Linked DNA regions of Homo sapiens. The protein of the gene in region 1 purifies or fractionates together with the protein of each later gene. This does not show direct contact. Each region holds a gene or a part of one and is shown on either strand. Other genes may lie near its edges.

Evidence for each region. Proteins that work in one complex are often made in the same cells at the same time.
Region 2: the proteins of TWF2 (region 1) and CAP2 purify together in Homo sapiens (co-immunoprecipitation; 3 studies listed by BioGRID and IntAct, with this or other methods). This does not show direct contact.

What each region holds. Positions count from the first base shown.
Region 1 is NC_000003.12:52,236,158-52,243,114, forward strand, and holds the start of TWF2 (twinfilin-2), read right to left. Parts: upstream 3,002-6,957; 5' UTR 2,860-3,001; coding exon 2,835-2,859; intron 1-2,834. UniProt on the Homo sapiens protein: Actin-binding protein involved in motile and morphological processes. Inhibits actin polymerization, likely by sequestering G-actin. By capping the barbed ends of filaments, it also regulates motility.
Region 2 is NC_000006.12:17,396,564-17,403,595, forward strand, and holds part of CAP2 (adenylyl cyclase-associated protein 2), read left to right. Parts: intron 1-7,032. UniProt on the Homo sapiens protein: Involved in the regulation of actin polymerization.

The DNA of each region.
Region 1 (6,957 bases):
AGGCATGGTAGCACGCACCTGTAATCCCAGCTACTCGGGAGGCTGAGGCAGGAAAATCGCTTGAACCCGGGAGGCGGAGGTTACAGTGAGCTGAGATCACACCATTGCACTCCAGCCTGGGCAACAAGAGTGAAACTCCGCCTCAGAAAAAAAAAAAAAAAAGAGACTCCATCTTGGTCATTGGGCTGTAGAGCTGGAAGGTGAGAGCCAGTGAGTGACCAAGGACCCCAGGGCAGAGGTGAGGACCATGGTGAGAGCTGGGGAGCCATAAGTGGTGGATCTACTAGTGGACAGGGAAACCACCACGGCCCATGTGGGGAAGGGCCCTGCTTGGGTCCCTGGGTGAGCAGGGCTAGGCCAGTGTGACCTTGAGGCTGCCCAAGGGTCAGGGGAATTCCGTCAGGAACACAGCTGGAGGCCTGAGGTCAGAGAATATTTATAGGGCCAGGACTGGGCAACTCAGGGGCGGGGGGGCCTTTAGGAAAACAAACTCTGGTTATGTCCTCAGGTGCCCCCCCTTTGCAGAGTGACCGTTAATCTGAGACCTCAGGCTATGCACCACCCTCCAAGGCCACTGGGTGGGCTGGGGCCCAACTGAGCTCAGCAGACCCTTAGGGCTCAGAGAAACATGGCATGGAACTGTAGGCAGGTGGACACCATCCCACTGGGCCAGGACAGAACTTTCCATCGGCAGATCCCAAGCAGGTCCCTGAGGCCCCAAGCCTGGCCTCTGGGGCTCCACTTCTCCCTCAGCTGTGTGACTCCTGACCTCTCTGAACTTCAGTGTATAAAATGGAAATAATAGCCCCAAACTTGGCAGGGCTGTGGTGAGGGGTAAATGGGAGAAAGGGCTTGGCGATGGTGGCCTCTATTAATAACAATTAATCTTTTATTATGATAATAACAGCAAGCTGACTGTGCTGAGCTGCCCCTTCTACCTGCCCAGACCTTCCCAGAAGGAAGGCCAAGAAGCTCCCCTAAGGGACAGGCCGACGGGCCCCTTCTAGTGTTACCAGGGCAAACTGACACCCCCACAGGGAAAGGCACATCCCTGCCCACCCCAGCCCCAATGCCTGCCCAGCCACCATCAATAATCCAGAGGCCAGGCCTGGGACACCTGAGCCTCTATTATCAATGATTCATGAACACCCTCCCTCCGACTCAAGTGAGCCTCACATTACAGGTCCCTTTCCTGCCTACTCTGCGGTCAGCAGATCCACACCTATGGTCAGGACAGGGCTGGCACCTGGTCCTCCAGGGTGATCTCTGCTGCCAACTTCCCAGGCCAGAAATGGGAAGAAGTGGGCTGCTCACAGGTGGAAGGAGGGCTAGGGGCAGCCCAGTCCCCAGTGACCCCCTCGGTGGGCCTGTCTCACTATGGGAAAGGAGGGAGTGAGGCAGCAGGGAAGGGGTATGGGGTGGCTAACTTCCTGGGATCTCCTCCACCAGGGCTGGAGGCTGGGAGGCAGCAGCTATGACCAGACAAAGGGGAAGGAAGAAGCTGGCCAGGAGGCAGTTCCCTCCTGTGGGGCTGAGTCATGAAGCCTGCCCGCCAGCTCCTCCTGGAGAAAGGCTGGCCCATCTGGGAGCCCTGGCCCTGACCCAGGCCCCTGCCTTCGCGGGGCCAGGGAAACCTTCTCAGGGCAGCCCAGCCACCAAGTGGCCACAACCGCACCAGGATTCAGGTGGTCAGGCAGGTCGATGGTGGCAGCCCCAGGCAGGGGATCCTAGTGTGGTGGGAGGGGTGGCTGATGGCCAAACCCGCCAGGCTGTCTGGGCAAACAGCCCGGGCCTTCCCCACAGGCCAGGCAGCTCTCTCAGGCCAGTGACAGAGGAGGACACTGAGCCCCAGGTAGAGTCAGGGCACCTGGCTCCCAGCCATTGCTTCTCTCACAGCCTGTCCAAGAAGGAAACTGGGACCCCTAGGGGAGGGGAGGGTGTGATGCGGGAATGGTGAAGCTTCCTAGGGCTGGGGGCTGGGGGTGGGAGCTGGCCTGGATTCTTTAGGGCCAGGACTCTCCCCACAAAACCCCATATCTGGACCTCTTCTCTGTCTGCAGCCTGGAGCTGGGATCTTCCAACCAGACTGAGGCAGACTCAGAAAGTCACAGTGGAAAATGGGAGGGAGGTCAGAGGTCAAGGTCAGATAGGCAGCTTTCTCCATCCCACGTAGAAGTCTCTGTTCCGGGTTTTCCCTAGCCTGGGGAGAGTGAGTGTCCTGGGAGGAGCAAAGGTCAGGGCCTTCTCCTAACACACATAAACAAGCCCATTCAAGTCAGACACATGCGGTATATGCATCCTTGGCAAAAATGCACACTGAGACGCGCTCCAACTGTGCACACACACAGACACCCACATACATGTGCACACTGCCATGAAACACTGATGTCTAAAGAGGGTCCTATGCGACCTACAGTGTCCATTCAAACAGTCACTAGTGCCAGTGCATGAATGACCCTAGATGTACACAAGCGAGTCACATCCAGAGGTGCACAGGCAGGACTGTACACGGAAGACGTGTGCACATGCGTGTACACCCACTCCCGGAAAGGAACAAAAATATACAGATGGGCACACACAGCCACATTCATCTCCAGGTAGGCACACAGATACTTCCACCCCAGTTGTGTACGTACACATACACCCACTCCCAGCTATGCACACCACGTCCGTACTCCCCCAGATGTGCCCACCCCAGGCGACCCGCGGCTGCAAAAGAGAACAGGAAGCTTTCTCCCGGCTGGTGTGGGGTGGAGGGAGGGGCCGAGAGCCGGGGGGGGGCGCTTCCGAGAGCCCAGACCGAGGCCCCCTGCCCGCCCGCCATCCGCCCTCACCGTGGATGCCCGTTTGGTGCGCCATGGCTCGGCGCTTCGCTCCGTCCGCGCCGTCGGAGCCCTCCGCTTGACCCTGGCCCGGCAACGCTCGCTGGACCAAGAGAGGTGGAGGATGTGGCGGAGGCTGTCGACCCTCGCGCAGCTTCCCGGGCGGTGCCGCAGGACCCGCCCCCAGCGGCGCCCCGCCCCCGACAGGCGCGGCAGGGAGGCGGGGACTCGGGGCCGCGCGTGCGCGCAGCCTGCGCCTCGGTCCGGGTGGGTCTAAGGATGATGATTGATCCGCCGTGCGCACGCCAGCGCGTTCCTCTGTGGCAGGAGAGGGGGGCCTGCGTGTGACCGAGCGTGCGTGGGAGGACGCGCGTGTGTGTCTGTGCGCCCTGATCACGGTGGTCTGTGGGTGGGGCGGATCGTGCGCGCGCGCCCGATCTGTGCGCCCCAAGCCAGGTGGGTCTCCGAATAGGAGTGGGTCCCAGCGTACACGGGTTTGCACCCAGGAAGGGGTCTGCTTGTGGGTGGGCGCGCCAGCTCTTCCCCAGGGGCCGTTTCTTGAGCGCCTCCCGTGGGGTCCTGGGCACCTCGGGGTGATCATGGCCGCTAGGCTTTGCCCTCACGGGCCTAGGCCCGCCTTCACCCACTAGATGGAGTGTATGGTGGTGAGAGCCCGCCGAGACAATGTGAGGGGCTGCCAGGAGAAGGCGAAGATTGGAAACCTAGAGGGGAGAATGAAACAGCCCAGCAGAGTGGAGGGAAAAGTTTTCTTTCTTTTTCTTTTTCTTTTTTTTTTTTTTTGAGATGGAGTTTCCCTCTTGTTGCCCAGGCTGAAGTGCACTGGCGCGATCTCGGCTCACTGCAACCTCCGCCTCCCGGGTTCACTCCTGCCTCAGCCTCCCGAGTGGTTAGGATTACAGGCATGCACCACCATGCCTGGCTAATTTTGTATTTTTAGTAGAGACGGGGTTTCTCTATGTTGGTCAGTCTGATCTCGAACTCCCGACCTCAGGTGATCTGCCCGCCTCGGACTCCCAAAGCGTTGGAATTACAGGCGTGAGCCACTTACTAGTCCCAGCCAGAAAGGTTTTCTGAGAAGAGGGCACTGCATGTGCAAAGGCCCAGAGGTTGAAAGAGGGCCAGAGCCTGGTGAGGAACTTCCCATGTCCTAATGACCTTCTGTGTCTATATCCAGCAGCCTTGCCTTACTGGTACCAGTACCTGCCTGCTGCTACCAACTAGTCAACATGTGGCATCTTCCAGGCCACTGTGATGAGTCAGGGATGAGCATCTGACTCTGGTTGGTCCAATCAGCTTGTCCAGGGACTTTGGCTGGGAAGATTGGAAAGGAGGCCAGCTTTTTGGGCTGGGGTTGCTGAGAGATGTGATGATGAAATGTGTGGCCTACCTGGCATCTGGCCCCAGCTTCAGCTCCATTTACTGTCTTGCTCCCCACCCTCACTAGCCTGCATTGAGGCCTCCTCTGTGCCCCCCAACCCCTGAGTTTCTCATCCCCAGAGAGCCCAGCTACACAGAATTGAAGGGTTTTCTCATTCATCTTCCTGCGCTCACCCTGAAGACTGGGCCTATGTCATCTGCTAACCACTGTCCCCCCAGCACTCACAGTGGAAAATGGAGTGTTATGCAGCCCTGCAGCTTGCCTTCTAGAACAGTTCACAGGCAAGGCCTCCCACACTGAACCCTGCTACAGCCAGATGGTGCCAGCAACACAGAGCTACTTGTTACATCAGCTCAGACTAAGCCACACCCACAGGAGCATCTGGTGATTCCACAGAACCACAAGAGACTTGACCTCCTGGAAATGAATTAACCAAGATTAATGAAAAAGATTAAGGTCATGTGCCCTGTAAAAATGTCCCTCACTGGATGAACTGTGACAAAGTAGGGTACTGCGTGGTCTCCCCAGCTGACCCTCTCCATGGGTCATTCTTTGCTTTTATCACTACCTGGCACAAATCTTTACGTATTTGTTTATCGTCTTCCCTCCACCAGTAGTTAGGTGTTTGCCCTTGCTGTATCCCCTGTGCCTAGAACAGTGCCCAACATTGGCAGGTGGCCAATAATTGCAAAATAAGCAAATGTATGAATGAACCATTAGATGCTTTGTGTTGTATACTTACTACCTGCTGGGCACATTTATTTAATCCTCATGACAGCCCCTGAAGTAGGTGTTACTTTTTCCATCTTACAGATAAAGACTCTGAGGTTTGGAGAGGTGAAGTGATTTGATCAATGTCACATGGTAGTGAGTGAGGCCAAGAATCATAGTTTCATTTTATTCGAGAAGTTGGGGGCCAGGTACAGTGGCTCATGCCTGTAATCCTAACACTTTGGGAGGCCAGGGTGGGAAGATCTCTTGAGCCTAGGAGTTTGAGACCAGCCTGGACAACAACATGGTGAGACTCCATCTCTACAAAAAAAAAAAAAAAATTATTTTAAAATTAGCCAGGCATGGTGATGTACACCTGTAGTTCCAGCTACTTGGCTGAGACAGGAGGACTGCTTGAGGCCAGGAATTCAAGACCAGCCTGGTAAAGATGGCAAGACCCCATCTCTACATATATATATCTATAGATAGATAGATAGATTAATAGATAGATATGTATTAGCCAGGCACAGTCACACATGTTTGTAGTCCCAGCTACTTGGGAGGCTAAGGCAGGAGGATCACCTGAGCCCAGGAGTTAAGGGCTGCAGTGAGCCGTGATCACACCACTGCATTCCAGTTTGGGTGACAGAGTGAGGCTCTCTTAAAAAATTTAAAAATACTGAAGAAACAAAGGGAGGAGTTTGTAGAATCTGGAGTGGAGGAAACTTCTGTGTCACCAAACACAGAAACCATCAAAGAAAATCTTTCACTTCCAAAATTAGTCTATAGAAAAAAAAAAAGAAAATCTTAACCCAAATAAGAGACTGAGGCAAGAGCTTCAATCAATCGAGGTTTACTGAGCCAGAGTTGGAGCGTGCCCAGGAAAGCAACACAAGTCAAAGAAACGTCTGTGGCCTGTGCTCTCCCAAGAAGTTTTCAGGAGGCTCAATATTTGTACATTTCTTTAAAGGGGAGAAGACAGTGAGGCAAATGGTTATGTTTTTGTGAGACTCTTAATTAGTGTCCCGTAAATCTAAGCTATATGGAAGATAGGGTGAACACTGGAAGAACAGGGAGTAACAGAAGAGCCAATTATGCAGAGGTCTCAGGTTAGGTGGAGGAATGATTGATCTCATCTTATCCTTGTTCTGCACCTGGGCAGATAAACTTGTAATTGACATTGTCAGTGTGAAATTTAACAGACTTTGGTTTTAGGAGTTAGGTTTAGGTTGCAGACCTAAAGTTGCAGTTGACATGTCCTTGTTTTATAGGAGGATATACATCCTGAAAGTTTTAGGGACTGGCAAAGAATTTACTGCTGAGCAATTTGTGATTGCAGTCACCTGGAGATTCATGAGGCTTTTTGCCTTTTTGTGGGGATCTGGTTAATGCATAATATTTTGACACAAGGTTGCAAGGTAACAGGTATCCATTTGGGAAAAGAATGACAGTTTTGGAGAACATTAGTTCTGCAGCATAGAATGAAGTGTTGCCGGAATAAAATTAAAAAAAAAAAAAAAAGGCTGGGTGTGGTGGCTCATGCCTGTAATCCTAGCACGCCTGTAATCCCAGCACGCCTGTAATCCTAGCACGCCTGTAATCCCAGCACGCCTGTAATCCCAGCACTTTGGGAGGCCGAGGCGGGTGGATCACCTGAGGTCTGGAGTTCGAGACCAGCCTGATCAATATGGCGAAACCCCATCTCTACTAAAAATACAAAAATTAGCTGGGCATGGTGGCGGGTGCCTGTAATCCCAGCTACTGGGGAGGCTGAGGCAGGAGAATTGCTTGAACTCGGGAGGCGGAGGTTGCAGTGAGCCGGGATTGTGCCAGTGCACTCTAGCCTGGGTGACAGAGCAAGACTCCATCTCAAAAAAAAAAAAAAAAAAAAAAAAAAAAAAAGGAATGCCAGTGTTGTGTGGCTCAGTCTCCAAGCTTAACTCTCCCTTTAGCATAACAAATTTGGGGGTCCTGAAATTTTTATTTTCCTTTATGAAAAGATCAATAATCCATTTGCATAAAAAA
Region 2 (7,032 bases), on another chromosome or scaffold:
TGATCTATTCATTTGAAAATGTCCAGACCAAGGAAATGTATACAGCTAGAAAGTAGATTTTTTGTTGCTTAGGGCTGAAGGGGCTGGAGGTGGGTTGAGTAGGGAAGTGATAGATAAAGGTCACAGGGTTTCTTTTTGAGGTGAAACATGAAAATATCCTCTAATCGACTATAGTGATAGTCGCACGTATCTGTGAATATACTAAAAACCATTGAGTTGTACACCTTTAATGGGTGAATTGTGTGGTATGTGAATTACATCTCAATAAAATTGTTAAAGAAAATAAACAGAAAACTAGGGGAAAAAGTACTAGATTGTTAGTATCCAGTTGCATCTTTGTGTTTTTCCTCTGTGCCTGCTCTCATGTCCCTCCCAACCCTGAATTTTGTGTTAATCATTCCCTGGTTTATTGTAAAACAGTTTTATCACATGTGTATGTATTCCAAAACAATAGTGTTTAGGTTTGTTTTTTTGGTTTATGAAAAAAGGTATTTATAATCTCGCATTCTCTTTTGAGATGGAGTCTCTCTCTGTCGCCCAGGCTGGAATGGAGTGGCACAGTCTCAGCTCACTACAACCTCCGCCTCTCAGGTTCAAGAGATGCTCCCGCCTCAGCCTCCTGAGTAGCTGGGATTACAGACGCGGGCCACCATGCCTGGCTAATTTTTGCATTTTTAGTAGAGAAGGGGTTTCACCATGTTGCCCAGGCTGGTCTCAAACTCCTGACCTCAGGTAATCTGCCGTTCTCGGCCTCCCAAAGTACTGGGATTACAGGCCTGAGCCACCGCACCCAGCCTAATCTTGCATTCTTAAAATTCAACATTAGGTCATTAAGAATTACCCACATTGGGCTGGGCGTGGTGGCTCACGCCTGTAATCCCAACATTTTGGGAGGCCGAGGCGGGCGCATCACGAGGTCAGGAGATCGAGACCATCCTGGCTAACGTGGTGAAACCCCATCTCTACTAAAAAATACAAAAAATTAGCCGGGCGTGGTGGCGGGCACCTATAGTGCCAGCTACTCGGGAGGCCGAGGCAGGAGAATGGCGTGAACCCGGGAGGCGGGGCTTGCAGTGAGCCGAGATCGCGCCACTGCACTCCAGCCTGGGCGACAGAGCGAGACTCCATATCAAAAAAAAAAAAAAAAAAAAAAAGAATTACCCACGTTGTTGCATGTAGGTATGTAATATTTCTTGGCAAATATTCCATGATTTATTTCACCATTCTTGTTGACAGGCATTTGGGTTGGTTCCCATGTTTTGCTATTACAAAGAATGCTGCTTTGAAGACTTTTTTTCCATGTGTCTTGGCACACATGTGCAAGAGTTCTTCACTGTGAATGTGCCATGTATTTTAATGGGAAAAAAAAAAAAAGAAAACCTGATTCTCCTTTGACTTACACATTGATGGCATGTAACCACTTACTCATTTCCCCAAACCAAGATAAAATGATTAGATCTGACATTCTGACTTCTCATCCTATTTACATTCTAGTTGTAAAAGTATTTCCCAACGTTTTAAGAAGTGTGGAAAATCTAAAATTTCACAACTCAATTTCACAGCAGAGCCTTTTAACCCGGTCACTCACGGACATCTTCATCTCCTTATATCACCTGGGTTTAGGATGAGAGGGAGGACAACTTTATTATTACATCAAAGGAACATTACTTTAATCAAAGTACATGAATAGTTACTAAACCTCATTAAAAGTTGCCTCGTATTGTATATCCTGCGGAGTGGTCTAGTATTTCCGATGTGATTTAGTTAGGTAAGTCTGATAACAATGAGCCTTGGGCAGATCTAGATCTGTCGTTGAGTTAGGCAGTGAGTTTTGCCATTCATTCAGGATATTTCTCCTTGAACTTAGAAGGAGGAAAGCACCTTAAAGTCAGAACAAACCATTATGAGGAATTTTAAAATTACTTTTACTATTTTAAGATATATATAAAATTTACGATTTTAAACTTTTTTTTTTTTTTGAGACAGAGTCTTGCTCTGTCGCCCAGGCTGGAGTGCAGTGGCACGATCTCCTCTCACTGCAAGCTCTGCCTCCTGGGTTCAGGCCATTCTCCTGCCTCAGCCTCCCAAGTAGCTGGGACTACAGGTGCCCACCACCACGCCCGGCTAATTTTTTGTATTTTTAGTAGAGACGGGATTTCACCGTGTTAGCCAGGATGGTCTCAATCTCCTGACCTCATGATCTGCCCACCTCAGCCTCCCAAAGTGCTGGAATTACATGCGTGAGCCACCGTGCCCGGTCCGATTTTAAACATTTTTAAGCATACTATTCAGTGGCATTAAGCTCATTCTCACTGTTGTGCAACCATTATTATTGTCCATCTCCAGAACTTTTTCATCATCTGAAACTGAAACTTTGTACCCACTAAATATAACTCTGGATTCTCCTCTTCCACAATCCATGGCAACCACCATTCTACTTTCTGTCCCTGAATGTGCCTATTCTAAGTACCTTATACAATATTTGTCCTTTTGCTACATGAGCTTTGTTTGTTTGTTTTTGAGACAGTCTCGCTTTGTCACCCAGGCTGGAGTGCAGTGGCACCATCTCGGCTCGCTGCAACCTCCGCCTCCCAGGTTCAAGTGATTCTCGTGCCTCAGCCTTCCCAGTGCTGGGATTACAGGCGCTTGCCACCCCACCCAGCTAATTTTTATACTTTTAGTAGAGACAGGGTTTTGTCATGTTGGCCAGGCTGGTCTTGAACTCCTGACCTCAGGTAATGCACCTGCCTAGGTCTCCCAAAGTGCTGGGATTATAGGGATGAGCCACCACGCCCGGCCTACATGAGCTTTTATATCCAGGGGAATTCCATCTTGTTTTGTTTCTGTCTTTAGTAGACACTTTTCCCACTTTAGGAAAATAATGGCTTCTTTCACTGAGAAATTATGTGAAGGGATTGTTTCCCTTTCAGTATACAGCCCTATACAGAAAGGGACATAGGACATTGTCTGAAACCAGAAGAAGAAATTATGACTATTATGAATGGGGTCTTCATCTGCCCTGTCTAGTTAATTAGGCATCTAATAATCCTGGCTTCTCATTGAACACTTAGCCACCTGCAGAAGGTGCACTAGCCCCTAATTCTTAAAATTTCACATTTACCTGATACATGGAGGAAGTAAATAACCTTTGATGTTCCTGTTAGCCCTCAGCTTTTCAGAATGTAAAGGCCATTCTGCAATATAGAAGTCTGATCTAAAATCTCTTTTGTTTTGATGGGAAGGGGTATTCTGAGAGGCTGAAGGAGGGTTCCAAGAGGCTGAACATAGAAGGGAGGTAACCTAAATGGCAGTTCTGAAGAGGAAGATGGTTCCTGGGGAAGTTAGATGCTGGAGACACCAAAGACAGACCTGTAGTGGCCGGGCATGGTGGCTCACGCCTCTAATCCCAGCACTTTGGGAGGCCAAGGCGGGTGATCACAAGGTCAGGAGATTGAGACCATGCTGGCTAACACGGTGAAACCCCATCTCTATTAAAAATACAAAAAAAAAAAATTAGCTGGGCATGGTGGCACGTGCCTGTAGTCCCAGCTACTTGGGAGGCTGAGGCAGGAGAATCGCTTGAACCCGGGAGGCGGAGGTTGCAGTGAGCCAAGATCATGCCACTGCATTCCAGTGTGGGCAACAGAATGAGACTCCATCTCAAAACACACACACACATACACACACAAAACAGACCTGTAGTACATAGACAGCTTTGTTGTCCTATTATTATGCACAGTTTAATGAGAAAATAACCTCTGTTACTTTGCATCATTCCATTTGGAGATCCAGAGAAATTCTGGGATCCATTGGTTGACTTACTCCCCCTATGTTGAGTGACTGCTATATCCCTAGCATCTGGGGATGCAAAAATGAAGATCAGTGAAGGAAGATAGAATGAATAGAAGATGACACTTAAGCTGTAAACATAAGTCACAAAGGATCTATTCGGATGATTGTCATCATTTCCTACTTTGTTTCTATTTAGTTTTAGTCAGAGAAGAATCACTGGATTCTTGGCCGGGCACAGTGGCTCATGCCTCTAATCCCAGCACTTTGGGAGGCTGAGGCGGGCAGATCACAAGGTCAGGAGATCAAGACCATCCTAGCTAACATGGTGAAACCCCGTCTGTACTAAAAATACAAAAAAAATTAGCCAGGCGTGGTGGCAGGTGCCTGTAGTCCCAGCTACTCGGGAGGCTGAGGCAGGAGAATGGCGTGAACCCAGGAGGCAGAGCTTGCAGTGAGCCGAGATCGCGCCATTGCATTCCAGCCTGGGCAACAGAGTGAGACTCCGTCTCAAAAAAAAAAAAAAAAGAATCACTGGATTCTTATGAAAATGAATTATTTTATCCTAAGGCAACAAGAACAGTTAAATTGGACCACACTAAGAAAATGAGATGATCAGATTTTTCAGAACCAGGTAAAATAGGCTTCCAAGTGTTGCATGTATAGTTCAGTCTGGTTATAGTGTGATATACTGGAGTTGGAGGCATCCATTTGTAATCTTAGCTTCGAAGCTGCTGTGGTCTGAATGTTTATGTCCTCCCAAAATTCTTATGTTGAAATCCTCACTGCCATTGTGATGGTATTAGGAGTGGAAGGCCTTGGGAGGTGAATAGGTCATGGGGTAGAGCACTCATGAATGGATTAGTGCCCTTATGAAAGAGAACCAAGGGAGACCCTTTGCTCCTTTCGCCAAGTAAGGACACAGCAAGAAAGTGCCATCTATGAGCCAGAAAGTGGGCCTTGATCTGCATTGATCTTGGACTTCCCAACCTCCAGAACTGTGAGAAATAAATTTCTATTGTTTATAAGCTATCCAGTCTGTGGTGTTTTGTTACAGCAGCCTGAAAGAAACTAACATAGTAACCTGTGTATTACCCAAACTGTGCAAGTGATAGATCAATATGATATAAGTGTGATCTTTCCATCGAATGTATACTGTCCTGGTATTGCTACTCACCCCTCTCCAGTGGCAGGAAAACCAAATGTCTGGCCTAATGAGTTAGGTTGATTGATGGACAGTTTCAACTGATTGGTTACTTGACATGAGGTAGGCTAAATGCAGATAGTCTATCTCTCGGCAGTCATGCTAGAAGCTGTGGCTAGAGATTTTCAGGGTACAATGCAGATCCACAATTATTTAGGCAATTTTTTTTAAGTTTACATTTTTATTTCTCCTCCATTTGAATTTCTTCTCTGTTTCTTAGTACTCCTCTCTGTGTTCAAAGTTCTCACTGTAGACAACCCTTCACTCCCCCTCCTTCCATCTTGCTTCAGAACAGCCTCTCTCTTCCTTAGGAATTCACTCCCCTCAATGCCTCTTTCTGAATGGAAGGTGGACAATTATCAATTGAAAGTCTTCAGTAATTGAAAATTTTAAAAAGAGACTTGTTAATAGTGTGAGTCTCTATATAATATATAATTGGGGATGGAACTCATTTTTATGCTTCTTATTTTGGTTCAGCAATCTTTAAACTGTGTGCATTTACTATATGCAAAGGTTTGCCAAAGGTACATGTGCACAGGTGCTTTGAGAATATAAAGGTCCAAATCCTCCTCTTCCATATGTGCTTTTTTCCTAAGACTAATCTTGATGAGAATGGACCTGTAATGGAGACGCAAGTTCTCTTTCCCATCTGCTTTTCCATAATCACCTTCCTCTTGCTTTCCTTGTGAAAAGCGTATGTCTACCCCATTTTCCTAATCCATTTTACTAAATGGTTTATGTCTAACCCATTTTAGTAAATTGCTTTGCCCAAGGATGTAAAACTCTAGGGGATGGGGAGGACAAAAAAGGGGGAAATTTCTGAGTATAAATTTCGTTTCAGGGGTGAGAAAGCAAATGACTGTAATGCCTGAGCAGAGACCCTTTTGCAAATCATGTGTTTTCTAAATCTATCTTAAAAAACAAAAAGTGAAGGCCAGTCTAATCAAATAGTAAACCGATATTAAAGGATAAACTCTAAAAAAGAATGAAATTTTGACTCTCATACAAATAAAAAATAGACATTTTCAAACTTATTTAAAAAATGAGAGAGCCAGAAAGGTTTTGCAGTCAGTTCAAAGGAGATCATTTATAAGAATGCTGGAATGAATTTGCTTAATACATGTAAAACTGGCTTCTTCCACAATGGGAGAGGGAAGGTGATTGGACTTCTACAGCATAAAGTTTATTTGCATGTCTGTATGACTTGCTTTACTATCAGTTTTCTGCAACTTAACTTATATCTCTACAGGGTTGTAAAATAGCTTAGTCAAACACAATGAATGACTGAGATGACCCAGATGAATAAGTATTAGGGTACTCATGAAATTTGTCTTCTCAATTTTTCCTTACATTGACAATTAAAATAAGTTTTGATATTTCACTACCATGTGATGTTGGAGTTCAAAAAATTAAGTGACATTTCTATAACAAAATTCCTCCCATTTCCATCTCCTCATTATGTTTCCCAGCATTACATTGATAAAAACAAAAAATAAGAATTAAATTGATGCTCAACATTGACCCATTTTATTTATTTTTATTTTATTATTATTATTTTTTATTGAGATGGAGTCTTGCTCTGTCACCCAGGCTGGAGTGCAGTGGCACGATCTTGGCTCACTGCAACCTCTGCCTCCTGGGTTTAAGTGATTCTCATGCATCAGCCTCCTGGCTAGCTGGGACTACAGGCGCGAGCCACCATGCCCGGCTAATTTTTTGTACTTTTAGTAGAGATGGGGTTTTACCATGTTGGCCAGGCTGGTCTCAAACTCCTGACCTCAGGTGATCCGCCTGCCTTGGCCTCCCAAAGTGCGGGGATTACTGGCGTGAGCCACAGCGCCCAGCCACCTGGACTCATTTTAATAAGTATACACATCCACATATCCATAAAGTTATGGAAAGTAAAAGTGTTCAAAAGAGAGAGATTTCCAATAAAGTTGCTTTTTATTTACTTTTAGTAATTATTTGTCAAAATTTGTAATATTTGTGTTGTTTTCTAAGTCACATCCTACTAATAGTAACAATGGTATCAGAATAGC